Regions from separate parts of the Homo sapiens genome. Here regions 2, 3, 4, 5 and 6 are each reported to be linked to region 1. Evidence: microRNA targets listed by miRTarBase, many of them from high-throughput screens and not tested one by one. Region 1 holds a microRNA gene; each other region holds the end of a gene's coding sequence.
The links. The annotated mature microRNA hsa-miR-6133 reads UGAGGGAGGAGGUUGGGUA and lies in region 1 at 1,685-1,703, shown strand. An mRNA with a match to its seed (bases 2 to 7 or 8) in the 3' UTR can be bound and repressed. Matches are read on the target gene's strand: a 7mer-m8 pairs with bases 2 to 8, a 7mer-A1 pairs with bases 2 to 7 and ends in A, and an 8mer does both.

Region 1 (4,000 bases):
TAATTCCAGTGTTTGAAATGGTAGGTAATTATTATTTATGTATTATCTGTCTTTGTAACAATGGCAAGAAATATAATAGTAAGAAACCAGTACTTAAATCAGGTTAGAATGGTAATGAGAGGTGTTTTTTAGCTTCAGAGGAAGATAGTTAATGAATCCCATTTTAAACAATGAAATCTACATGAGACAGAACTTCTGAAGATTTATAGACTAGTGTTCCACACATTTTTTGAAGGAATTTTTACATTAGGGCTTTGTTCTTTTCCTTGAAATTGATAAGAAATAAAATTTTGGGAGACTAATACTGGAAGCAACTTTATTGACCAAGAGTACTCCACAATCTAGCCTTTAGCCTCCATCTTAGTCCATTGTGTGTGCTCCTTTTTGAATTGCTGAAAGTTCCCAGAAGGATGCAATTGGTGGTTCATGTGGCTGAGCGTCAAGAAGATGAATAAAAAGTAGAAATACAGAGTTTGCTCCCTAATAATCCTCTTTCCCAAGGCCTGTGGCTCTTAGAGAGGGCTGCTCTTTCTCCCTTCCCTTTTACCCACCCAGTCCCACTTCCATCTCATTCAGAGTTGGTTAAGGAAGCTCTCTATAGGAGCTCTGAGCAGCAGATGGGCTGTATTTGAATTGTTGTTTTTTCCTTCCCCACAGTAGGTGAAAGTCCTTTACCTTTGTTTCACCAAATTAGATTGGCTTTAACACTGGAAAAAACACTGAGGGGAATTGGTAGGGACACAGATTAAATGCTCTAAGTGGTTCTAATTCATTCAGACTTCCAAGAAGAATTTTGCTAAAAGTCCTTCATAAGAAGCTTTTTAAAGGAAATTTGGTAACCAAGGAGTGAGAAGTGCCATGATATTCTATCAGATATTAAAACCTGGTTATGTGATAAGACTGAATGGTCAATTTCCACAGTGGAAGGAGATTAATAATGGTTGGCCCTTGGCTGGGAGTTTAAGGCTGCAGTGAGTCATGATCAGGTCACTGTACTCCAGCCTGGGCGATAGAGCAAGACTCTGTCTCAAAAAGAACCCCAATAAACAACAAAAAAAGATTGACTCTTGGGAATGACAAAAGAATTGGTTATTTTCAGCATCTTATTCAAAGTGGCAGCTTCTTTAATAATAATGACTATAGGGTGTCTGATAGAAAAAAATTACTTTTCACCTTTAGTGTTGATTTATGCATTATGAATGCATACTTGTCCTATATTCTCAAGATTCAGCAATCAGAATAGATAAGCAAGTATACATTTGTGTAGCAAATATACATCTATTTGAATCATGATTTTTTGGAGTGGGCTTGCTTTTAAGTAAGTGCCACAGATTAAAATAGGTTGTTAGAATTTATTTCTGTGTTAATTATGTTCATATTAGGATTTCAGATTTTTGTGTTACGGTCTTTGTTCTTAAGGGCTAATTTATTTACTTAAGGGCTAATCAATAATGAATACTGTCCCTTTTTTTCTGACATATTTTCCTCAAGACTCATTAAATAACTTCTTTAAATTCTTGGTTGTAAGTTACAGAAATTCAACTCTAGCTAGCTTAAGTAAAAATAATTGTTTGACTCATGTAACCAGTCTGCCAAAGGAATAGGCATGTATGTGGAATGTCACCTGTGTGTTTTCTCTGCATGCCCTCTTCATTGTTCTGCTGAAGACTGGTCTCTTCATGTGTGAGGGAGGAGGTTGGGTATTGAGGGAAAACAGGGGGCATAGGCTATGTCTACATCTTTCCACCTTTACAGAAGAAAATAATCTTTTTTTTTTTCATAATTCAGAAATCTAGGGTTAGGAGCTAGATTGAGCCAGGTTGGGTATGATAATCATCAATAAAACTATCTGGTTGGGGCAGGGGGCGTGGTATAGGGAGGAAGAACAGTCATGTCCAGAAAAGAGTGAGTTTGTAAGACACATTTTCCGGAGGTTTTGTTTCGTTTTCTGTTTGGTTGTTTATATATTCTAGATATTAATTCTTCTTGTCTGTTAGATATCTTCTCCCAATTGGGGATTTGTCTTTTTCCTTTGTTTATAGTGTCTTTGTTATAAAGAAATTAAAAATCGTAATGCAAAACAATTTCTCAATTTCTCAGTATTTTTTGTTATGTGATTTTTTTTTTTTTTTTTTGAGACAGGCTCACTCTGTTTTCCAGGCTGGAGTGCAGTGGTGTGATCTCAGCTCACCACAACCTTTGCCTCCTAGGTTCAAGTGAGTCTCCTGCCTCAGCCTCCCAAGTACCTGGGATTACAGGTGTGTGCCACCACACCTGGCTAATTTTTGCATTTTTAGTAGAGATGGGTTTTCACCATGTTGGGTCAGGCTGGTCTGGAATTCCTGACCTCAAGTGATCTGCCTGCCTTGGCCTCCCAAAGTGCTGGGATTACAGCCGTGAGCTACTCTGCCCGGCCTGTTATGTGATTTTTGATGCAAGAAAATTTTTTTTCCATCCCAGTGTTCTAAGAGAATCTCCTATGTTTTCTTCTTTAACCCGTCGAAAGTCCATTTTTATATATGGTATTAACTGAGGATCTAATTTTATCTTTCTTCTATATAGTCTGTTGGCTCAGGCTGTTTATTGAATCCTTTTTCTACTGATTCATGATGCTATTTTGGTCACACAGCAACTTATCACATATGCATGGATCTGTTTCTGAGCTCTTTATTTTGTTTTAATGGTGTTATTTGTACCTGCACCCAAACCATGCTGTTTTAACTCCTGTAACTTTATAATACATCTTGATAGGAGGTGAAGAGATTCTCTCATCTTGCTATTCAAAATTGTCTTTGTGGCCAGGCATGGTGGCCCACGCCTGTAATCCCAGCACTTTGGGAGGCTGAGGTGGGCAGATCACGTGAGGTCAGGAGATTGACACCATCCTGGCCAACATGGTGAAACTCCATCTCTACTAAAAATACAAAATTAGATGGGTGTGGTGGTGCATGCCTGTAATCCCAGCTAGCTCAGAGGCTGAGGCTGGAGAATCACTTGAACCTTCAATAGCTAATTGATTGAATTTAAGAGAATTATCTTTGCAATGTTGTGTTCTTATCTGTGAACCTAATATTCCTTTCATTTATTAAAATCTTCATTTGTGTCCTTTGATAATGCTTAGCAATATATATAGTCCTTAGAGGTATCATATGTATTTTGTTAGATTTATTTCTGGGTATTTCATTTTTTTGTTGTTGTCTTTTAAAACAGTAGCTATTTATTTATTAAGGTTTCTAGTTACTGGTTGCTGGTGCATAAGGATGTGATGTATTTTTCTTTTTTAATTGACCTTGTATTTCCCTGAACTGATTCCCAATACTGTCTGCCTGGAAAGTGATGACTTCTTTTTTAAGACCTGGCTCAAATTTCATCAACTCTCTGAATGTCCCAGATATTCAGATAGCTAGGTGCTTTTCTTTATGTTTCCATAAGCTCATATGTTTCATTTTAATATAATTCCTTTTGTTTGTGTGGTAGGTCATTGAGGATAGTGGTTGTGTCTTACCTATTTTTGTCTGCCCTGTTCCCAGCATAGTGTAGCTCATACAGTCAGAGTTCACAAATCATTAGCTAAATGGGTGACTATGTGGAAGACTGTAATACCACTACAGAGAGAAAAAGGTATTTCTTTTGTGGGAGCTTTGTTCTGTTTTTTCTTCTCTGGTTATTTATTTGTTTATTTATTTCTTAATGGCAAGGTTCTCTAGTGTCTAACCTTCCCTTTTCGTAGTAATTAAATGAATGACAATGATAACAATAGCTAATATGTATTGAGCACTTACTATGTCCTGGTACTATTTGAAATATGTTACATTTGTTAGCTTATTTCTTTCAACAACTCCACTTCTGATATTACCATTTTATAACTTTGCATGTTCTGAGGAGTTGGCATATCCCAATAAACAATGATTTGTATATCCCAATATGCAAAAATTTCGTGGAGGTAGGATTTAAAGTGCACTTAAAAGGTTGGAGATATCTTCAACTTGGTCTTTTGTAT
Region 2 (4,104 bases), not on the chromosome of region 1:
AGGAAAAGGCAGGAGGAGCCCCTGAGGCCAGGCCATTGGGCTGGGGAGCTGTTAAGCTGAGGTGGCCCTAGGGCCTGCCGGGGCTGGGGGTGGCAAGCCAAACCGGAGGCACCAGCCAGGCCCACAGGACACAGGAGGCAGAGCCGTGAGGCCTGGTCAGAGCAGGTGGAGTGCTAGTGTGGAGACTGCAGGGAGAGACCACCCGAGCCATCAGCTGAGGACTGTGGCGGCCCAGCAGGAGTAACACTGTTGAGGAGAACCCAGCCCAAGCCTGAGGAGGCTGGAGGTGCCATACGGCTCCTGCGTGCGCCTGGTGTCTTGCCCACGCTCACCGCTTTCTTGGTCAGGGCAGTCCCGGCTGCAGCCTCTCACTCATCACATTCTCATCTCTCATCTGTCTGATGTTCCCACCTCCCTGTCCAGCCCCAGGGTTAGGTGAGAGCAGCTACTCAGTCCTGGCCACTGTCCCCTCCCCTCTGCAGGATGACATGCACAGGGTCATTGACCGGCAGCTGATGGACACGCACCTGAAAGAACGGAGCCAGCCGGCTGCTGCCCTCTGCAGGGGCCACAGCGCTGGGCGGGGGGATGAGCCCAGCATCGCTGAAGGCAAACGACTCTTCTCATTCTTCAGGAAAATTTAAGTTGGGAGGAGTCAGGCCACCAAAGATGGGTGGACTGGAGGCAGCTGGAAAGGCGGTGCAGGCAAGGCCTCCCCTGCAGCTTGCACCTCAGCAGCTGCCCTGCCCCTCATGCTAGGGCCCCATGGGTCCGGGAGGGCCTGCTCCCTTTCGTCGGTGGGGATGGAGACCTAGAGGTGGGGGCCTGCCTTGGCCACTGAAGGCTTCCCTTGGCCCACCGCCTGGCCAAGCCCACGCCTGGGCTTCTCCAGGACCACGTGCTTGAGCAGGGTTAGGCCACCTCCCAGAGGGGCCCCTTGGTGTTGGGCTTTGCAGCTCACACCCAACAGATCGCAGCCCACCCCCAGGCACTGCTGCCTCCTTGATTTTAGCAAATGGGGAACAGAAGGAATGGAGGCCCTTCTCTGCATGCCTCAGGAGGCCTGAGCCCCAGGGGCCTAGACCTGTGGGGGCAGCGGGCCAGGCCTGAGCCTCCATTCCTTCCCCAGCCCCTGGCCCAGGGTCAAAGGAGAGATGGCAGCCCCTCCCCCGCATGCATGCACCTCAGCTGGCAGGAGGCCAAGCCTCTGGCCGCAGGGTCTAAGAGCCGGGGCTTACCCAAGCTCAGCTGAGGCCACCCGAGCCCCAGGGAGGAAGAAGGCCCTGTCCCCCTGTCGCCACTGCTCTCCCTCCCAGCCTTCAGTCTCTGCCCCTTAGCAGGGCCTGGCCAGGCAGAGTGTTATCACCAGTCATCTGCAGGCTTTAGCCATCCAGCCCTTTCCCCTGCTCAGGGCTGGGGTTGGACGGGGTCTCCTCCTCCCACAGCTCCCTCCTCCACCCCTCACATACATACATAATTTCTTGGCCTAGCCAAACAAGTCCAGGCCACTGAATGGCACCAGAGGGGTCTGTGGTCAGCCACCCCACCTTGAGGGCAGCACAGGCACCACGGGGTGGAGGGGAGGGGGAGGCTGCCGGAAGCCTCCAGATGCTGCCTGCCTGCCTGCAGAAGCCTGCAGTGGCTGCTGCTCCTGCCTCTGCAGCCGCCCCTCCTCCTCCACCCAGGCCCCAACTCAGAGGCTCCGCGGCCCGGCCAGCCCTCAGCTGCTCACAACCGATTCAGTCTCCCTCCCTCCCTCACGTGGGGAAAGCACAGCAGGGATGCGCGGCAAGAATGTACCTGTAGATGTGTACATACCACAGTGCTGTAATTTTGTATGTAGCAATCATGTAAATACATGTATGGATTTTATAATATACATATATAAAAATCTATAAAGGCATATTTTTAGAAAAACAGCACACCACTGCTTCTTTTGAAAATAGTCTGAATAAGAATAAAATGAATTTCTACAGAGCTTCCTGCCTCAGTCTCTGGGTATTTGCGGGGGGCGGGTTTGGTCTGAATGCAGCTGACATGTCAGACTCACCACTGGCTGCTGCTGGAGAGGTAGCAATAGTGGTTCCCCTGCACCCGGGCCACCTCAGATGCTGGTACTTACTTAACCAAGGGATTTGGCCAGGAAGGGCATCCTCCCCTGCCCCTCCCGCCTGGCACTGCCCCCTGCCAGTGCTGCAGCGTGCCATCCGCAAGGCAGGCCTGCCAACGCTGCTTCCCAGGCCAGCAGGGCCCTAAAGCTTGGCAGAAACTTCAAGCCAGAAAGAAACCACGCCAGGCAAAGGCTTCCACTGCATCCTTCCAGGCATGTGGAGGATAAACACGGAGCTTCCCCTGGCATCTTACCACATGTGCTCCCAGTCCAACTAGGGGGAGACTCAACCCTGGCCCACCTGTTCATGGAGAAAATGGACCTGGCTTCTGGAAGTGTCCCAAGGGCCTCGACAGGCTCCTGTGCAAGACTTAGGCCAAGAACAGGGAAGAGCAGGACACGGTGGGTGGGAAGAAGCCACGGCCACTCAGCACATCTCTGGAGGGAGAGCAAACAGACCCTGGAAGAAAATTTGGCAGCTTGAACCTTTATTTTTAGTATTTTTTTAAAAAGCATAATTAGAAACTTTCAATACAGAAATACTCCTAGCAAACCATTGAAAAGTGGTGTTTGTTTGACAGGAATTTCACATCAGGTCCACTAGGACGTCGGTCCAGCCCTGAGTCCCCACCCCCACCCCATAACCCCCATTCATGCGTGTAACAGTGGGACAGGCACACTGTCATGACCAAAATCACCCCAATACCTGGGGCTGATGTCCAGCTGCCAGAAGCCATGGGGGCTTCTAGCCTGGGCTGGAAGCCCCCAGGAACCCCCCTCTTATTGCTTGAATTTGCAAGCACACCCTCGCTGGCCTCGCCTGATCGCTCAGAGGCCAGCATGCCCCCCGCCCACCGGCACAGGAGCCCCAGGCACCGTGCATCCTCAGGGCCCGTGGCCAACCAGGACAGTCCCAAGGACGGAGACCCCGCTTCTGCTCCTGCCGCCCCCGCCCCCGACCAGATGAGGCTGCCTGCTGGTCAGCCCTGCAGCCCCCTCCACAGCACCCTCCTTCCCAGGCCCATGGGGCTCCCCCACCCCATCCCGTGGCTCCAAAGTGAAGGCCTGTCCCAGAATCACCAGCTTTTGGCAGTTTGGGCAAGTGGAGAGTCGGTGAGAAGAAACCCCCAGTTTTTATTGATTAAAAACCCATCCACAGTGCTAACATGGAAACTGCAGTGTGATCTGTGATGTGATTGTCCAATCAGGGCTCTCCCTGGAAATCGCCTAGGAAAGGAAATCTAAGGAAACACATCCTGGTGTTAAACTCGGTTCTTCCCAGGTCACTTGATCCCTGTAGTGGGAGGGGAATGAGGTGTCCGGGCTGGGGGTCGGGGAGCAGTCATCAAGTGCAGATGACCCTGGTTGTTCTCCAGGGCACTGGGGCGTGTCAAAACTGGCCGCCCCAGCCATTCCTTCCCACCCGCCAGGAAATCCTCTTGCTACCTTTGTCCTGACAAAGGTTAGGACAGTGACCAGGGCCTGTCCATGGTCCCCACCCAGAGGCCCCAGGCATGCACTCCCCACAGTGCCCGAGGCTGCAGTGTAGACTCCTGACCTCCAGTGGGAGGCAACTCGGACAAGGGTGGGAGGCCCCTTCTCCGCTCCCACCAAGAAAGCCCAAGAGTCCAGCCCCACAATGGCAGGAAGCCATTCATTTTTTTCTAAAAACAGTGGACACAAGTGGGGTGGCCTCAACTTTTGCTGCTGTGCCAATCAAACCTCAGGGAAAGAAAATAATTGTGAGGAATTTAATTCACTTGATTTGGCTTCATTTTCTTGATCTGTTAAAATAATCCTCCCATAGCCCCCCTGCCAGCCCCATCTCTGCACGAACCTACCCCGACCTTTCTGTTGGAACTGAAACCTGTTGGTGTAAATGAGAAGCCATGGCTGCCCTGGGTTTGGAGCTCAGAGGCATCTAGAAGGCAGGACAAGAAATCTGTTGGCCAAAGGGCAAGACCTGCCACCTCTGTGGAACTGCAGGGCCTGCC
Region 3 (4,104 bases), not on the chromosome of region 1:
TGGGTTTAATAGGAAAGGAAAGAAGGTCATGGCTAGAAAGTAGACACAAATATGTAACCACGGGAGCCAGTGCGTGAGAGCCGTGCTCCTGTGATGGCGTCTACTTTGCCCAGCTGTGGCAGCTCTGGCAAAATGAGGAACCAGTCAGCTGGGTGATTCTTATTATGAGGAAAGAGGTGCAAACCAACATAGCCTTTAATTAGGAATACTGGGGGACGTAATATTCAACAGTCCACAGCAGCCCTGAGCTATTGCATGGATGGCCCTGGAGCCAGCAGGGGATCCTGCCGGTGTCTGCGGTGCTGTCAGAGCCCTCAGGGTCCCTGCGGCAGCCTCTCCCACCCTCACTTGCCCTGTCTTCTTTTCCAGGTCACCCTGCACACAGGATTGGAAGTGCCGACTAACCTGGGGCGGCCAAAGCTGTCAGGCAATTAGCCCCGCTCCAGCTCGGCACTGTGCCTGTGACAGTGACATTCACAGGCAAAACGCCCACCATTCTCACTAAGCTCAAATAACCCACAAAAGCAGGATATGCAAATCATGGGTGCAACCTGGCAGCGTGGAGTGTCATAGAAACACATTTTCTTGGGGACGCAGGGAATGGGTCCACGGGCCATGCTCACAGCTGCCACTGTCAGTGGCAAAGGAAGGTACGTGTGTCACCCTTATTCCACCCAGACATTACGAACACTCCCCAAGAAGGACCTTTCTCAAGGGAGTCAGCATTCGGGCTTCATGTCTATGTTTCCTGCCATCTGTTTTCAAAGCTTGTCTTTTTTTGGAGGGAGAGGAAGGTAGACTTTGAGACTGGCCTCCTGAGAGCGGCAGTCAGGAGCTGCGCTGTAATCCCACGCCCCGGGTGTTGGCCCTCCGTGGGGACCTTGCCTCCTCAGAGTCCCGAGATTGCAGATTCTCATCATGCTGAGAAAGTTATCTTTTAGCTTCTTGGTCCTAGAGTCTTTAGTAGCACCTGCCACTTGCAGACCCAATGCAGGATTGATAGAAAGGGACATTAATCATTCATGCTTGACTTTTGCCTCTCTCACTGAAGTGTTAGAACCTTTTAAAATGGCTTCCTTTATTAATCAGCCAATTGTGTTCTCTCTCTCTCTTCCTCCATCCTTCATTTCTTCTCCCTCCCTCCTTCTCTTTCTCTCTTCTTCTCTCTCTCCTTCCTTCCCTCCTTTGCTCTCTCTTTCTTCCTTTCCTCCTTCTCTCTTACTTTCCTCCATCCCTGCCTCTTTCTTCCCTCTTTCGCTCTCTTTCCCTCCCTCCTTCTCTCTCTCTCTCACACACACACAGGCATGACAGTCTCCTAAAATTAATTCACTCAGTTCTTAGTTCTTAAATCCACGTGAAAACACAAGAATTTTAACAACTATGTCATAGGTCTTCGCCTGGTGATGGCTCCTTTCTGAAACTGGCAGCCCAAGAAGTTAACTGAAAATGCATCCAGATTGCTCTTCTGAGCTGAACCACTCTCAGACTCATAAGCATTTAAAATGGGAGACCCTGGGAAAGCCTGTTCTAGTCAGTCCACCCTATTGTCATTATGAAAGCATCATGAACACAAGTGGCCCCTGTGGCAGGCCGGGACGGCTCTGCCCTGATGCAGTGGGCGGGATCTCTGGGGAAGGCAGGAAATAGAAGGGCAGTATCAGGTACCTTGTCTCCCAGCTTCCCACTGTGAGACTGGGTGTGCCGAGTCTGACCTGCCAGGGCAGGACTCTGGAAACACCAGGCTTCTCCCTTGAGATCCACATTGATTCATCCACACCTCTCAGAGACAGCTCATGGCAGGGGTTTTGAGCCTGCCAGGCTCTTGTTCCCAGGGAACCCTTCCTCTCCTCCCTCCTCTCATCTTCCCAGTCACCTGCCACCTCCAGCTCCACCTGGTAGTAACATTTCTCTCTCCTTTTAAAAAGAATATATTTTGTCAAGCATTTTATTTCTGAGGCTGAGAAGTGACTTGTCAATTTGCTGGACTGGATTTTTATAAAATTCGCCCATTCACCAGCACCAACTGTGCGTCCTTGGTTCTGCCTTCCTGTTCAGACACCGCGCCTGCTTTCTGAGTAACTGCCTGCCGGAGCCATGCAGGTACCCCCCCTCCACTCAGCAGGCCCGACAATCCTACCTCAAAGCTCATGCTCTTGGTCTGCAAGGCTGCTTGGTCCGCTGTCTCTGCAGATGTGGCCGGCAAGGCCAGCTGCCCCGTCTCCAGGAGCTGCTCGGTGCTGTGTTGCAGTCTCTGCTGCGGAGCCTGGGAGCTATCTGCTTCATGGAAGTCTAGGTCTTGCCTCTTCCTTGTCATCTCACCAAGCGGTTTCTGGGTCTCCTCCTCCCATCCCAGAGCCCTGTCCAGAGCTCTTGGTGGTGACACACAAGACCTGGGACCCTGTGTCCTTGCCCGCACCTCTGCCTCTGTCTCCCATATCCCTGCAGCTTCATCCTTAGCCATAGCTCTGGGTGGCCTTTGCTTGGAGCATGGAGACGATCCCTAAAGATTGAGGATGAAGAGGAGCCACCACTTTCCTGGGGCCAAGGAAGCCATCAGCTTTGGGAAGTGTCTAGCTCTCTTCTGAAAAAAAAACAGGCCTACACCCTGCCCCCAGAATGAGAGTGGGCTAGGCAGGGCTGCCTGGTGACAGCAGCTTCTCACAGGGGAGCCCTGGGGAAGGCTGTGGAGCCTCCACCATCACCACAGCCCAGGTCACCAGGTGGCCCCAGCTCTGCAGAAGAATCGCCCATCATTGGAGCACAAGTTGCCTGGGGCTACCCTGAACCTAACCCCTTTGAGGGAGCAGCATCCAGGTCAGGAGAGAAGTGGAAAGTGCAGGAGGGTAATGCCCTCAAATCCGGTGGCCTCTTTCAGAAAAAAGTTCCCTGAAGTCCAGAGAGGTGCAGCCAGGACTCCCTCCTCCCCACTGCCACCCTGAGCTTGGGGGCTGGGATTCTCCCTTTTCTGACTCCTCCAGGAGCCCAGAAGCAATACGGCCGATGCCAGGGACAGCATCCAGCTCTCCTTCACAGACACCTCTCCTGTCTTCAGCACAAAACACCTTCAATGTTCTGACTTCAAAGAGAACGACAGGTCCGTGCCACACACTTGTGTTTTTGAGGGATCAGAAAAGTGAAGAAGGAACTTATCAATTCCTCATGGCCAGGAAGGTCCCGGGTTTCAGAGTAGAAATGACAGACAGGTCATGGAATTCTCATCCACCATCGAATTCCATAACACGTTACATCATGGTGGCACATTTGTACATACATATAAATGATATCAAGATGAGGCTTTTGTTGGGCTGGCTGAGGAGTAACTTGGTGTAAATCTATCAAGCAGTTTCAGTGAAAAAGGAATTCAAAGTAGTTTAAAAATGTCGAGTTCCATTGCATTGTAAATAGTGCCTCTGTAATGTGGTTCTGCAGTTGTTCTTTGCTAGTGAGCAAGCTTGGTCAAAGTGTATGCCTTTTCCTTTTAAAATTAATCTCTTCCGAAAATATCCACTAGCACCTCACTGCATACATAGCATCCCAGCTCCTAATTCAAAGCAGGGGAAGGTATTTCCCCAAAGCCTGCTTTTCCTCTCTCTGTTCTCCTTGGGAAAATAATGATTCCAATTAAAGAGGACACCAGTAATACTGACCCACAAGGTAACTGACCTAAACACTATAAAACTGTATATATTTCCAGGCTGCATCTTCAGCCTGATATGTACTTTGTAGTTGCAACAGCGCCCTAGGTGCCCTATGGCCCACCAAGTTTGAGGAGGGTGGTGCTTTCCGGATTGAGCCTGGGCAGGCTCTGTGGAGCTCACCAAGAGAGCTGGGGGCAGGCCCACCCTCCTCTTTGCGCCCTTTCTCTCCCTCTTGGTGCCCCTGCCCTCCGCCCCACCACAGCACTCTCAGGAAAGGATCAGAATGCAGGATCTTTGTGTATTTCTTCCAGGGATATTTGCATTTAAGCCTTAATTCTCATTGCAAGCGAAAGGCTTGGTCCCCCTGGGAAGGCGGGTTTCGGCACCGGTGGGCAGGTGGTTCAGTGTCAAGGAGGCTGCTGCTGGTCCCATGGCCACCTGCTGGCTTTGAGGTAGTGAGGGAGGG
Region 4 (4,104 bases), not on the chromosome of region 1:
ATTGTTAGTATACTATTTTGTAATTATTTTCAAAGAAATAAATAGGGAAGAAGTAACTTCTCTGGGGCATGCAAATGACAAAGAAAATAGTTTTCTATTTAGGTTGTGTGTATATATTGTATGTGTTGGTTTCTCTACTCTTTATGAGATACTCATTAATCTGAGAAACCTTCCGAGTATTCTTCATGATAAAATAAAAAAATATATTTTACAATAATTACATTGAAAAAAATCCAAGAAGAAAAGTTATGGATGGAAGCACTTACTTTTAGCCATCACTCAATTTCTTAAATTTTTTCTCTCTTTCACTTAAAGATCTGCCAAATTGTGTTCCTTTTATTACCTTAAATAACTGTCAAGAAAACAAGGTTCTATGAACCAGGACAACAGTGTGGCAGAAACAGTAGTAGAAAGGTTATTTCCAACCATTTAAAACAACTATAACATCATTTCACATTCAACTGACAACCGCAGCTTAAACTTGAGAATGGACAAGGGAATAATAATATACATTTTTCTTTTTCATTATTTCGTCTTTATCTTATGCATCAGTATTCTTACGAAGGACCTTTTTTTCTTCCATTCGAGACTGTGTGCTTTATGAACTGAACAGATGTTGCCTTTCATGTGATTAAACAATAATTTTTTCCTGCTCATACTTCTTAACCAATTCCTACCTGCCTCTCATCATGAATCATTGAAGATAATTCTCCAGTCATGCATTTAAAAAAATCTACTTGAAAGAAAAGGTCAAAGAGAATTTTTGAATTGACCACTTAATTTAAAATATGTTGCCATCAATTAGCCAGTGCTATCTACTTTTCTCCTAAGAACAGAAAGAAATGACTCCAATGATTTTACTTTCTTTGCTTGGCTTAATATCCGTGGATCTTGCTATCTTCTCTTGAGAAGAACTTGGCCTTTCATTCTAATGACTCACAAAAGAAAAGGCAATGACACCTGGGGCACATATGTTTTTCTAAGTCACTTGAAAATCTTTCACTTGGGAAAAAGCTGTATAAAAAATCTGGGCCTGGTCAACTTAATATAGATATTTTAAAACAGTAGAACTAATGGCAATAGAACACCTTTTATTTTGGGGAGGAGATGGAAAGTTTAAAGATGTAAGAAGTAATGCTTGATTTTTTTAGATTTTACTGAATATATAGCAGTATCCTTATTGTTTTCAGGGAAACTAGGAAGAATTGGAGAATGTGTAATAAAACTGCACGATTTGACAGATTTAGACAGCTGGCTCCCTCACAAGAAGTTCACATTTTGTTAATGTCACCCACGTTGAATAAGGGACAATTAGATGGTAAGGTCCATTTACAAAAATGGTTGTCAGGACATTTTTTTTTAATTGTAAAACTTTCTGTGATGGAATTCAGTAAAAGGGCTATGAAGAGAAAGCAATGGAGACAAAAGATTGCTATTAACCTACAGATGCAGGCTACTGCATGGTTCATTGCAAGATTTGTCACACTGTTGGGCCAATGAAGTGTTAGTGTGACTAGAAGGGACCACCCCTTTTCTGGGGTAAGAGGGCAATTTGGTCTCCATGCTCATTTAATCCTGAGACTTCTTTGAATAGACTGTCAATTGAATCTAAATTGTGCAAAATTATGCATGCACTTTTTAATGCAGGCTATTGTTCACTAAGCACTGAACCAAGATTTCTCAACCCATTTCCATTTGGCATGAGGTCACTTGAAACTTAAGTAATCATATATGGAAGACAAGAGCAGTGTACTTAACCAATCTTTCTACATTGTGGCTTCTATATAAATGCTTACTGGGCTTTAATTGCAAATCTCTCACCTTAAAACAATAGAGAAATACTAGCTACAATATATTTTTTAAATTGAGGCTTGTATTCCTAAAGGTAAGGAGAAGGTTTAGAAAGTCAGCTGGCGCTGCATAATCTATACTGCTCTACAATTTAGATTCTAGAGGAATGGATGTTTACAGAAGAAGGACAGCCATAGTGGGTGTGCACTTGTCATGAGTAGACGTGTTTTTTCACTAGTGCAAAGAGGCCTTATATTTTGTTAAAATCCAAACGTGGAGAGCTGGCTTTGAAAACCATGAAGAAAAATATCTACTAGACTTTTTGCAGTTTTAAGTCAGAACATGTCATCTCTGTAAAACCCTGAACAGAACATTTACAGAAAATTTATTGATACATTAGCCAAAGAGTATTTTCATTGAGTTCTGAAGGAACACGTACATTTAAAGTCATATTTGGCAAGAATTATTATGTTAAAAATTTGTACAGGTGACAGCTTACATAGCCAAGATTTTTAAAAACAAGTGAGCTCTTCTCCAGTGAGGTTCGATTCAGTGGAAATCTGCAACATTCTAATAACATAGACTCTGACAGTCTTGCTATGGTGAAAAGCACTTTACAAATGTTTAATGCTGGAATTTTATAAGGATTGGCTGTTTTCTTGCTTTTTCATCCGTCGTTAATGATTACATGTTGGCACAAGGATACCTTGCTAGATTAGATCCACAGCACATTAAAGACTGTTTGCTTTCTCACTCCCCTTCTTTCCAATTAAGTTGGTGAAAAATGTAACTTTAGTGTTTTACAGGACAGGGTAAAGGTGTTTCATCTAGGTGATGTCTATATTATAAAAATAAAATAAAATATATAAATATGTAACACAAACCCAGTGCCTATTGTTAAATAAAATATACAATAAAAGCAGACCTTTTAGGAAGATTGATTTTAAAATATGCTATTATGATTTAATTATAAAACACTTGAAAACAATCTTGAGATTAAGATGAAATAACCAGATTTCTCAGCCAATAAAAAGGTAAGTGTGTAGCATTCTGTAACTGGATACACTGACAAAAATGAAGATTACAATTTTATATCAAGTTGCTCACTTAGAAATTCATCAGGGAGTTCTGAAACATTCTCTCCTAGTATAGTACTTTAATATAAAAATATTGCCTTTTTTTTAATTAGATCCATCGGATTGCACAGTACTGTTTCAAAACTCTATTAAAGTTGACTTTAGTGATTACAGACAGAAAATTCCTGGGAAGTCAAATAATCTCTTCTAGTAACATAAAAAATCCATTATCAATTTACAATGGAATTTCTGTGTAAATTACTTTGCATAAGGAAGTATATATTTTAAAAAATCATCTGTTATGCAACAACGCATATAGGGGTTATGAGTATGTGTATGTGCATATGTGAACAAACATGCTGACATACACACAGAGGATCTGCACATTTCTGGAAATTATTTTTAAATTAATAAAAGAGAATGAAATCACAGGAGTGTGTAGCAGGATAACAGTCTTTTTTTTTTAATGACAGGATAAAAAATAAATGCCCATTGGAATAGAATATTCAAACAGTCCCAGAAACTATACAATGTAACTTGTTAGATCCAGCAAGTAAGATGTCATGTCAATGATCTGATCAAGAATACCTGCCCTGGTCACTCTGCGGATGTTTCTGTCCACTTGTTCACATTGAGGACCAAGATATCCTTTTTTACAGAGGCACTTGTTCGGTCTAACACAGACACCTCCATGACGACATGCTGGCTCACATTTTGCTGGGAGAGAAAAAGAGCAAGAACATCACACTCTCATTCTGTATGTCAGAAACAGGACTGAGCATGAGACCAACAAATATTTGCTGAATAAGGGAAGCGAGGGAAAAAAGGAGGGAGATAGTTACAAAATGATCTGAAAGATAAATATGCAAGTAGGAAACAGGCTTTTACACCCATAGTTATTTGGAGACCTGAACTCAGCAGAGAATGAGAGACATTTCTAGAGAAGCAGAGATCATGAGAAACAATTGCAACCCTTTGCAAAATTAACTCTATTTAAAATGAAGATTTTAGTCCTTTGAAATCTCTGCTTCACAGGAGCATTCTCTACAGAGGGCCTCCCAAGCTCTATGTTCCCATTCCTTCAAGGTAGGATCTCAACATGGGAGTGGCCCAGCCTGAGGGGGAGACACAGAGGCTCAAGCAACTCCAGTGCAACAGAAAGGAACAGTCAGTTTTGGATTTTGGTTGGGTGGAATATCCACCATATAAACTCCCTTGGATTCTTCCTTCCTCTTGC
Region 5 (4,104 bases), not on the chromosome of region 1:
GTGATCCTGAGGCTCTGTCAGGTCTGTGTCTAAATTTCCTCTGTAAAATGGGGATCTGGCCCACTAGAAGTGGGAAGATCACTGAAACGTGAAAATCACGCTGAGCCACTGCCTTCAAAAATATAAAAACACATGACAGCTTTGCATCTAAGGAGCTTTTTGTGTATTCTAGCCCCACAGGAAGCCCCAAGTCAGCCGCCCGCTACATACTCACTGGTAAATAAAGTTAAAAATAAGAAGACTGTTTCCATCCCAAGCTACATTGAGCCTGAAGATGACTATGACGATGTTGAAATCCCTGCAAATACTGAAAAAGCATCATTTTGAAACAGCCATTTCTTCTTTTTGGCAAAACTGAAGAGGGTTCACACAACTTATTTTAAAACAATCAAGAATGGTTGAACTTCAGTAGGTCTCTGGGCCCTGAAAGCCAGTGGTGATTTTATGAAGCTCTATAAGATAAAGCACTTCCCAAACCTTAGATGAAGACACCCCTGCGATCGGATGACTGCAGCCAGAGGAGACACATGGGTGCTCGGCTCTGAGGACTTAGAGGGGTCAGCCTTGTGCTGTTGAGGAAACTTTCCATGGGAAGGACCACGGGGCTCCATGGCTCCCACCTGTGGGAAACTACTCATTTCTTGGCATTCTTTCCCCCTTCATTCCCTTTGGTTTGCATGGTTCTGAGTGATATTAAATCTCAGCATTTGGTTGTGCAGACCCTCCCAGGCTCCCATCCCCAGCAAGGCCCTCACCAAGCATGCTGGTCTTTACCCTCTCACCCCACCCACCTCCTGCACTGTGAGGCTGTGGGTGAGTTACAGCTGAGTGCTCTCGTGCCCAGGTTCCCACACCACATCTCGCGAGTTTGCAAGGGCAGGGAGTACCTTTTGTTCTCGTGAACCCTCCCCACCTAGACACCCTGCAAACCCCAGTGCCTTTATATGATGTAGGCCAAATTGACCATAGAGATTTGAGTTTTCACCTAGGTTTTCTCCCCGTGCTTGCAAGTTGTACTGTAACAATGGACAAAGGACAAAAGTTACCTTCTGATTTACACCTAGAAGCATCATTTTGCAATAGGTGTGTTGGGGGTGCTACAGGAAAAATACATTTCCCCCAGGACAAATCATGGGGAACAGGAAAGAAAAGGGGCATGTAACAATGGCATATACAAGATGAGAGTTCAGGGGGCTTAATATCCCCTGTCCATCATTTTCATCAGTACTTACTCGAGTTCTAGGAAAACAGCCTCAAGCCCCTTCCTTCCAGATCACTGTCCCTGGGCATCTGGGAGGAGGCAGAAGGTCCACTGTGATGTGCTGCAGCCAATGAGATGGGCCAGGGACATGGGCAGATGTCTTGTTAAACAAGTGTCCTAATGGGGTCAACAAGGCCCGAGTCAGCTTTATAGGCTCTTAGACCTCATCAATTCCTTCTAGCTGATCGCCAGAGCCCTAGGACTTGACTCATTCTAACTATACTCACAAGATGCTGGTTTCTAAGTGACCTCTGGGAAATCTGGCAAATGAACAGCCTTGCAGAGAGAGCACTGTGAACCTGGAAAGGCCTGAGAGTGACTCAGATTTCCCTCAAGAGATGGGAAAATGTGTTCCTCCCATTTTCAAGCTTTCTCCCTCAATCAACGCTGGAGCACTGGGGACCTGGGCTTCCTCCCTGGTTCTCTCTTTCCAGACTCTATGAAGGCTTCCACCTTGCTATTAATACCTCCTTGGGAGGCCAAGGTGGGCGGATCACCTGAGGTCGGGAGTTCGAGACCAGCCTGACCAACATGGAGAAACCCCATTTCTACTAAAAATACAAAATTAGTCAGGCATGGTCGCGCATGCCTGTAATCCCAGCTACTTGGGAGGCTGAGGCAGAAGAATCGCTTGAAACTGGGAGGCGGAGGTTGCGGTGAGCCGAGAACATGCCATTGCACTCCAGCCTGGACAACAAGAGTGAAACTCCATCTAAAAATAAATAAATAAATAAATAAATAAACCCTCCTTATGTTAGGCCAGTAGTTATCTAACTATGGCCTTATGGGACTCTGGTATCCCACCAGCCAAAGAGAGGACTCTTCCCAAATTATAGAACAAAAATAAGCCAAAGGATTGGAGTGTTTCAAACACATGCTTTCGTCTTATAAATGTTCTGTAAACCCTCCATGACTATGACAAAAGTTAAAAACAAATGCCAGACAAATGTTGATTCTTCCTTGGTTTCTGGGACGCCACCCTCTCCTGGTTCTCCTCCTGTCTCCGTCTCATTTTGGGGCCACCCACTCTTTCTGAAGCATCTCTTCAATGCTGGTCTTCCTCAGGTTCTGTCCCTGTGTCTCTGCCCATCTGCCTCCAACACTCACGAGTGATCTCACCAATGTCCATGAGCTCAGTGGGCCCCTCCTTTTTTTTTTTTTTGAGACTGAGTCTCATTCTGTCACTCACGCTGGAGTGTAGTGGCACAATCTCAGCTCACTGCAACCTCCCCCTCCCAAGTTCAAGCGATTCTCCTGCCTCAGCCTCCTGAGTAGCTGGGATTACAGGTGTGTGCCAACACGCCTGCACCCGGCTAATTTTCTGTTTGTTTTTAGTAGAGACGGGGTTTCACCATGCTGGCCAGGCTGGTCTTGAACTCCTGACCTCAAGTGATCCGCTTGCCTCAGCCTCCCAAAGTGCTGGGATTACAAGTGTGAGCCACCACGCCCAGCTGCCCCCTCTATTCTGACTTCAGCTGAGCTCTTTCTCCCCAGCTGGGTTGCCTCTAAGACATCTCGTTGTGACTGCCCCACACACCCCCTCAAGTTCAGCAAACACCAAAAGGAACTGATGACCTACCTCCAGTCCCAAATGTCTTGTGCTCTACTATCTTCTTAGTTGCTGAAGTCAGAAACTAGTATCCTTCTCCCCACACTGCTTTGTTTCCAGAGCTCCCCATGTTACTTGTGCCTCCCACGTGGTTCTCCAATGAGTCCACGTCTCTCCGTCACTGTTCTGAGGTCAGACAATTGCCAGCGCTTGCCAGGAGAATATCAACAGCCCCCTGACTGCTCCCCTGCCTCTGGCACCTCACCTGCCGTCCACTTTCTACATGGCACCCAGTGACTTCCTAAAGTGAACATCTGACCACTTCATTCCTTTGCTTAAATCTTCTCTTTGCCCGTTAACCCCAGAAAAAGACCAAACTCTTTAACATGGCTTACAAGATTTGTCAGGATCTGGTCACTGATTATCTTTTGCCAAACTCTTCTCCCCCAACCCCCTTGCAACCTCCACTCTGCCCAAGTTTTTTGCTCCAGCCACTTAAAATGACCTTCACAGGCCGGGCGCAGTGGCTCACACCTGTAATCCCAGCACTTTGGGAGGCCGAGGTGGGTGAATCATGAGGTCAGGAGTTTGAGACCAGCCTAGCCAAGATGGTGAAACCCCGTCTCTACTAAAAATACAAAACGCAGCCGGGTGTGGTGGCACATGCCTGTAATCCCAGCTACTCGGGAGGCTGAGGCAGGAGAATCACCTGAACCTGGGAGGCAGAGGTTGCAGTGAGCCTAGGTTGCACCACTGCACTCTAGCCTGGGTGACAGAGCAAGACTCCATCTCAAAAAAAAAATAATAATAATAAAATAAAATGACCTTCACTATGGTCCCTCTTGCCCTGTGCACAGCGCTATTCCTCTGTATGAAACATTCTTCCCCACCTTTGGATCCTTCCCATTTCATCTTGGCTACCCTTTCCTCATGACCCAACTTGGGTTGGTGCCTCCTGGATGCTCTCCTTTCATAGCATTAGCATGTTATAATTATTGCTTATCTGTCTCTCTCCTCCACTAGACCCAAAGCAACATGAGGGCAGGGAATGTGTCCTTCTTTCCTCTACTGTTTTCCCTGTTCCTAGCACAGTGCCCAGGTACATTGTAGATGCTCAATAAATATGTTGAATAATCAACTGGGTTGAATGAATGAATCAATGAACTCTGAGCTCTCACAGCTCCCATACTTGGCCCTATGGAAATACTTCTCCCTTTGTATTATAATTATTATATATTATAATTATAATTACCTGGTTACTTTCCATCCTCCTTTCTAATCTGGGGGCTCCTTT
Region 6 (4,104 bases), not on the chromosome of region 1:
AAAATGTGACGGAGCAGCTGGGGTGGGGCATGGGGTGGGACTCTAACTAGGGTGCTCGGGGAGGGCCTCCAAGGGGGCAAAGGGCACAAGGAGAGGCCTAGACGATGAGGAGCCAGCCGCAGAAACGGTGTTCCCGGCAGAGGGAACAGCAGATGCAAAGGTTGTGAGGGGGCACGGAGCTTGGTGGATTCACCACAGGCCACGTGGACACTCAGCCTCCCTCACCCTTTCCTTCCTCAACAGCCAAGCGCCCGGCGCCAGCCCGGCCCACCATGCCGCCCCCCCAGGTCTCCGGCTCCCGCTCCTCCCCTCCAGCCCCGCCCTTGCCCCCTGGCTCTGGCAGCCCTGGGACCCCCCAAGCCCTGCCCCGACGTCTGGTTGGCAGCAGCCTCCGAGCCCCCACAGTGCCACCCCCGTTACCCCCCACACCCCCTCAGCCTGCCCGGCGCCAAAGCCGGCGTTCACCAGCCTCCCCCAGCCCGGCCTCCCCAGGTCCAGCCTCCCCCAGCCCAGTCTCTTTGAGTAACCCTGCACAGGTGGACCTGGGGGCTGCCACAGCAGAGGGAGGAGCCCCTGAGGCTATCAGTGGGGTCCCCACTCCCCCAGCTATCCCCCCTCAGCCCCGCCCCAGGAGCCTTGCCTCAGAGACCAACTGAGTGGCTGGTTTCTCCCTAAGCAGCCCTCAGCACCCCCTCCCTCCCCACCTGGCCCTCCCAGGACAGCTCTCGCCCCCCACAAAGGGGCATGGGCCTCCAGCCTTTGCCCACAAGTGCCTCAGTGCCCACTGGGTCGGCCCCCATGGCCAGGAGGGCTCAGGACAATCCTCTATTTCCTGACCTTTTCCTCGTCCACCCTGGGCTTGGGGACCCCCCCACCGGACTCTCCACTCTCCGGCAGGTCCTAGGGGAGCCACCGGAAGGAAGGAGAGGTTTGCCTGCTCCTACGGGACTGATTCTTCTCTTGCCGACATGTTTTTTGTAAGGCTGGTAAATAAATTATTTTGGACAAAACTGGAGCAGCTGCCCAAATGATAGTTTTATTTTCTGTCCTTGAAATAAAGAAGCCAATTTTATAAAGGGGAAAACAATACATATTCTTTGCCTCCTTTCTTCCTGTCTGAAGTGAGATCACAGCAGACATTTTTAGAGCTTTCTCTGCACTACATGCTGTGCTGTTCTGTGGATGATTTCCACTTAATCTTCTCCTACTGCAGGAAATACCATTACCTCTTAGCAGTGAGGAGACTGAGGCCCAGACAGAAGTGACCTGCCAAGGTCACACGGCAGTCAGGCAGGGGCCTGGGATTAGAGCCTAGGTCTGACTCCAAAGCCTGGCTTGTCCCTCACATTCTGGGCAATTTACTTAACTTCTTGGTATCCCTTTTCCTCATTTGTGAAACTTTATAACAATTCCCTCCACAGAGGTATTGCTCTCCATTGAAAACCAAAGCACCACCCTTGGCCCACAGAAGCCCCTACCGCTCCCACTGTTTCCTGGACCCCTCACTCTCCTTCCGGGAGGAGGCTGGGAAGCCTCCCCAAGGAGCAGGGATGGATCTGTCCTCAAACCTTCCCTAAATCTGCTCTGTGCCAGGCCCTGAGCTAGCTCCAAGACTTAACCCTACACCCAAAGAGTTCCCAAACAGACAGGCAGAAGCAACCATTAGAATCAAGTGTCTGGCCAGGCACGGTGTCTCATGCCTATAATCCCAGCACTGGGAGCCTGAGGCAGGAGGATCACTTGAGCCCAGGAGTTCTAGACCAGCCTGGACAACATAGTGAGACCCTGTCTCTACAAAAAAAAAAATTTTAATTAACTGGGTGTAGTGGCGTGTGCCTGTAGTCTCAGCAACTAGGAAGGCTGAGGCAGGAGGATCGCTTGAGCCCAGGAGTTGGAGGCTTCAGTGAGCAGTGATCATGCCACTGCACTCCAGCCTGGGTGACGGTGTAAGACCCTGTCTCAAAAACAAAAAAAATCAAGTGTCATTGCACTGGGAGCCCATATTAGCCAAGTTAGGGGTGGCCATATAACCTAGACTCATGGTATGGGGTGGGTGGTTAAGAACGGCTTCCTGGAGAAGGTGATATTTAAGGGAAGTCTTTCAGGAGCTGACCTGAAGGTGAATTTTGTTTATTTTTATTTATTTTATTTATTTTTTATTTTTTGTTTATTTTTTTTTGAGATGGAGTCTCGCTCTGTTGCCCAGGCTGGAGTGCATTGGCACGATCTCAGGTCGCTGCAAGCTCCGCCTCCTGGGTTCAAGCAATTCTCCTGCCTCAGCCTCCCGAGTAGCTGGGACTACAGGCACCCGCCACCACGCCTAGCTAATTTTTTTCTTTTTTTTTTTTTTTTTTTTTGTATTTTTAGTAGAGACGGGGTTTCACCGTAGCCAGGATGGTCTCGATCTCCTGACCTCGTGATCCGCCCACCTCAGCCTCCCAAAGTGCTGGGATTACAGGCGTGAGCCACCGAGCCCGGCCCTGAAGGTGAAATTTTTAAAGGAAAAAGGAACATTCAGGCCAAGGAGACTATCTATGCAAAGGCCAGGAGCAAAAGGCTTAGGGCACTTGGGGAATAGGAGCTAGTTGAGCTTCCAAGGTTGGGTACAAGGTACAGTTTTTCCCAAGTCGTTGGAGCTCCAGTTGCTCCTGGGGGTCACAGCCTTATCTGAAGTTGGCAGACAACTTCAAAACTGTGACACCACAGCTCACAATTCATTCATCCCCACACTGCAGACCAGTGGCTCCTCAAAGGTCCCAAGACCTGTGGTTGCTTCCAGATCACAAGGCCTCCTCCCTAAGACAGGGACCCAGCCAACCTGGGTCACCCCATTACTATTCTGGGCAATTGGCCACGACCATTCTGGATCCTGCCCTCCCGGGGCGTGCTGCAGTGACAGCCTACCAGCCTCTAGCCCAGTGCTTCCCTACCCTATCCTAGCTCACGGTAGAATCCCTGGAATTAAACCAACTAACCAACAAACCAAAAAATGCCCAGTCTTCACCCAAAACACTTACATGAGGATCTGTCCTGCTACACATCGGTGATTTCAAAAGCATTTGTCAAGACATTGAACTGTACATTTAAGATCTATGCATTTTACTATATGTAAATGATATCTGAAAATAAGTTCCCAGGGGACTCTAACGCAGTGTGAAGAACTACTGGTCTAGACCGAGGGCTCCAGCACCCAAGAAGACACCATGTGCCTCGTACCCCATCGTACACACACGTTTCTTGGGACTTCGCTCTGAACTGGAGCGTCCACGATTCAGGGGGCAATGAGATTCGACCCAAAGGCAGTTCATTTAACATCTGTTTTTCTCCCAGCAACCAGCTCGCCTAAGCTTCTGATTGGCTGGAGGGCACGGGGCCTTTCGCTTCGCGTTTTGTTTGTAGATTCTTATTGGTTAAGAAGAGCGTCAGTCTCCCACCGCGTAAGAGTGTAGTCGGCGTTGAAACTCGGCGGCGACTGGTCCAGCAGAACCAGGGACGGGGAGAAGGATCAAGCTAGCTCTTCATTGGTCCCTTCCCCTCGGTGTTGGCCACGAATCCGCCCCTCTCTCCAAGTTCCGTTAGCTCGCGGCTTCGCTCCTCTCCCAGACTCTCGCCCCCATTGGCTGCAGGCCACGCCGTCGCCCCGCCCCCCGGTCCTTCCAGCGCGCCAATTGGCGGCTGCGTGGAACGTGCCAGGGAGAGCGCGCCGTGCCCGCGGAGAGAGCGCGGCGCGGGAGGCCGGCGGCCGGCCGGCTGCATGGCGCGCTGCGAGAGGCTGCGCGGAGCGGCCCTGCGCGACGTGCTGGGCCGGGCGCAGGGGGTCCTGTTCGACTGTGACGGGGTGCTGTGGAACGGCGAGCGCGCCGTGCCGGGCGCCCCGGAGCTGCTGGAGCGGCTGGCGCGGGCCGGCAAGGCGGCTCTGTTTGTGAGCAACAACAGCCGGCGCGCGCGGCCCGAGCTGGCCCTGCGCTTCGCGCGCCTCGGCTTCGGGGGGCTGCGCGCCGAGCAGCTCTTCAGCTCCGCGCTGTGCGCCGCGCGCCTGCTGCGCCAGCGCCTGCCCGGGCCTCCGGACGCGCCGGGCGCCGTGTTCGTGCTGGGCGGCGAGGG

Region 2: miRTarBase lists BICDL1 as a target of hsa-miR-6133. Seed matches in the 3' UTR shown: 7mer-m8 at 1,306-1,312, 7mer-m8 at 1,446-1,452, 7mer-m8 at 1,745-1,751, 7mer-m8 at 1,749-1,755 and 8mer at 1,753-1,760.
Region 3: the mRNA of TRIM67 is a reported target of hsa-miR-6133. Seed matches in the 3' UTR shown: 7mer-m8 at 1,133-1,139, 7mer-m8 at 1,137-1,143, 7mer-m8 at 1,268-1,274, 7mer-m8 at 1,848-1,854, 7mer-m8 at 2,914-2,920 and 7mer-m8 at 3,864-3,870.
Region 4: the mRNA of HHIP is a reported target of hsa-miR-6133. The part of its 3' UTR that is shown has no 7-base or 8-base seed match.
Region 5: the mRNA of SCIMP is a reported target of hsa-miR-6133. Seed matches in the 3' UTR shown: 7mer-A1 at 1,589-1,595 and 8mer at 1,634-1,641.
Region 6: the mRNA of SH3BP1 is a reported target of hsa-miR-6133. Seed matches in the 3' UTR shown: 7mer-m8 at 693-699.

What each region holds. Positions count from the first base shown.
Region 1 is chr7:133,289,267-133,293,266 of GRCh38, forward strand. MIR6133 (microRNA 6133) reads left to right here and starts at 1,615; the gene lies at 1,615-1,722. The region is part of intron 3 of EXOC4 (exocyst complex component 4); the gene reads left to right.
Region 2 is chr12:120,092,518-120,096,621 of GRCh38, forward strand. BICDL1 (BICD family like cargo adaptor 1) reads left to right here. Exons shown (of 10, transcript NM_001367886.1): 10 at 483-1,977. The coding sequence ends at 644. It overlaps RAB35 (RAB35, member RAS oncogene family), which reads right to left. Exons shown (of 6, transcript NM_006861.7): 6 at 2,582-4,104. Among named protein-coding and RNA genes, the nearest start is that of RAB35, 22 kb to the right of the region's middle. RefSeq lists enhancers at 280-923, 924-1,567.
Region 3 is chr1:231,215,006-231,219,109 of GRCh38, forward strand. It overlaps TRIM67 (tripartite motif containing 67), which reads left to right. Exons shown (of 10, transcript NM_001004342.5): 10 at 370-4,104. The coding sequence ends at 435. Among named protein-coding and RNA genes, the nearest start is that of FSAF1, 24 kb to the right of the region's middle. RefSeq lists enhancers at 1-457, 371-480, 2,172-2,671 and a silencer at 1,581-1,640.
Region 4 is chr4:144,737,244-144,741,347 of GRCh38, reverse strand. It overlaps HHIP (hedgehog interacting protein), which reads right to left. Exons shown (of 13, transcript NM_022475.3): 13 at 1-3,584. The coding sequence ends at 3,391. The region is part of intron 1 of LOC124900791 (a long non-coding RNA gene); the gene reads left to right. Among named protein-coding and RNA genes, the nearest start is that of HHIP, 93 kb to the right of the region's middle.
Region 5 is chr17:5,207,024-5,211,127 of GRCh38, reverse strand. It overlaps SCIMP (SLP adaptor and CSK interacting membrane protein), which reads left to right. Exons shown (of 5, transcript NM_207103.3): 5 at 173-2,208. The coding sequence ends at 327. It overlaps ZNF594-DT (ZNF594 divergent transcript), which reads right to left. Exons shown (of 6, transcript NR_152840.1): 2 at 1,233-1,378. Among named protein-coding and RNA genes, the nearest start is that of ZNF594-DT, 17 kb to the right of the region's middle. RefSeq lists a silencer at 2,520-2,699.
Region 6 is chr22:37,655,029-37,659,132 of GRCh38, forward strand. SH3BP1 (SH3 domain binding protein 1) reads left to right here. Exons shown (of 18, transcript NM_018957.6): 18 at 244-1,089. The coding sequence ends at 656. PDXP (pyridoxal phosphatase) reads left to right here and starts at 3,695. Exons shown (of 2, transcript NM_020315.5): 1 at 3,695-4,104. The coding sequence starts at 3,755. It overlaps PDXP-DT (PDXP divergent transcript), which reads right to left and starts at 3,349. Exons shown (of 6, transcript NR_109952.1): 1 at 3,227-3,349. RefSeq lists enhancers at 3,252-3,321, 3,332-3,381, 3,570-4,071 and silencers at 3,572-3,881, 4,082-4,104.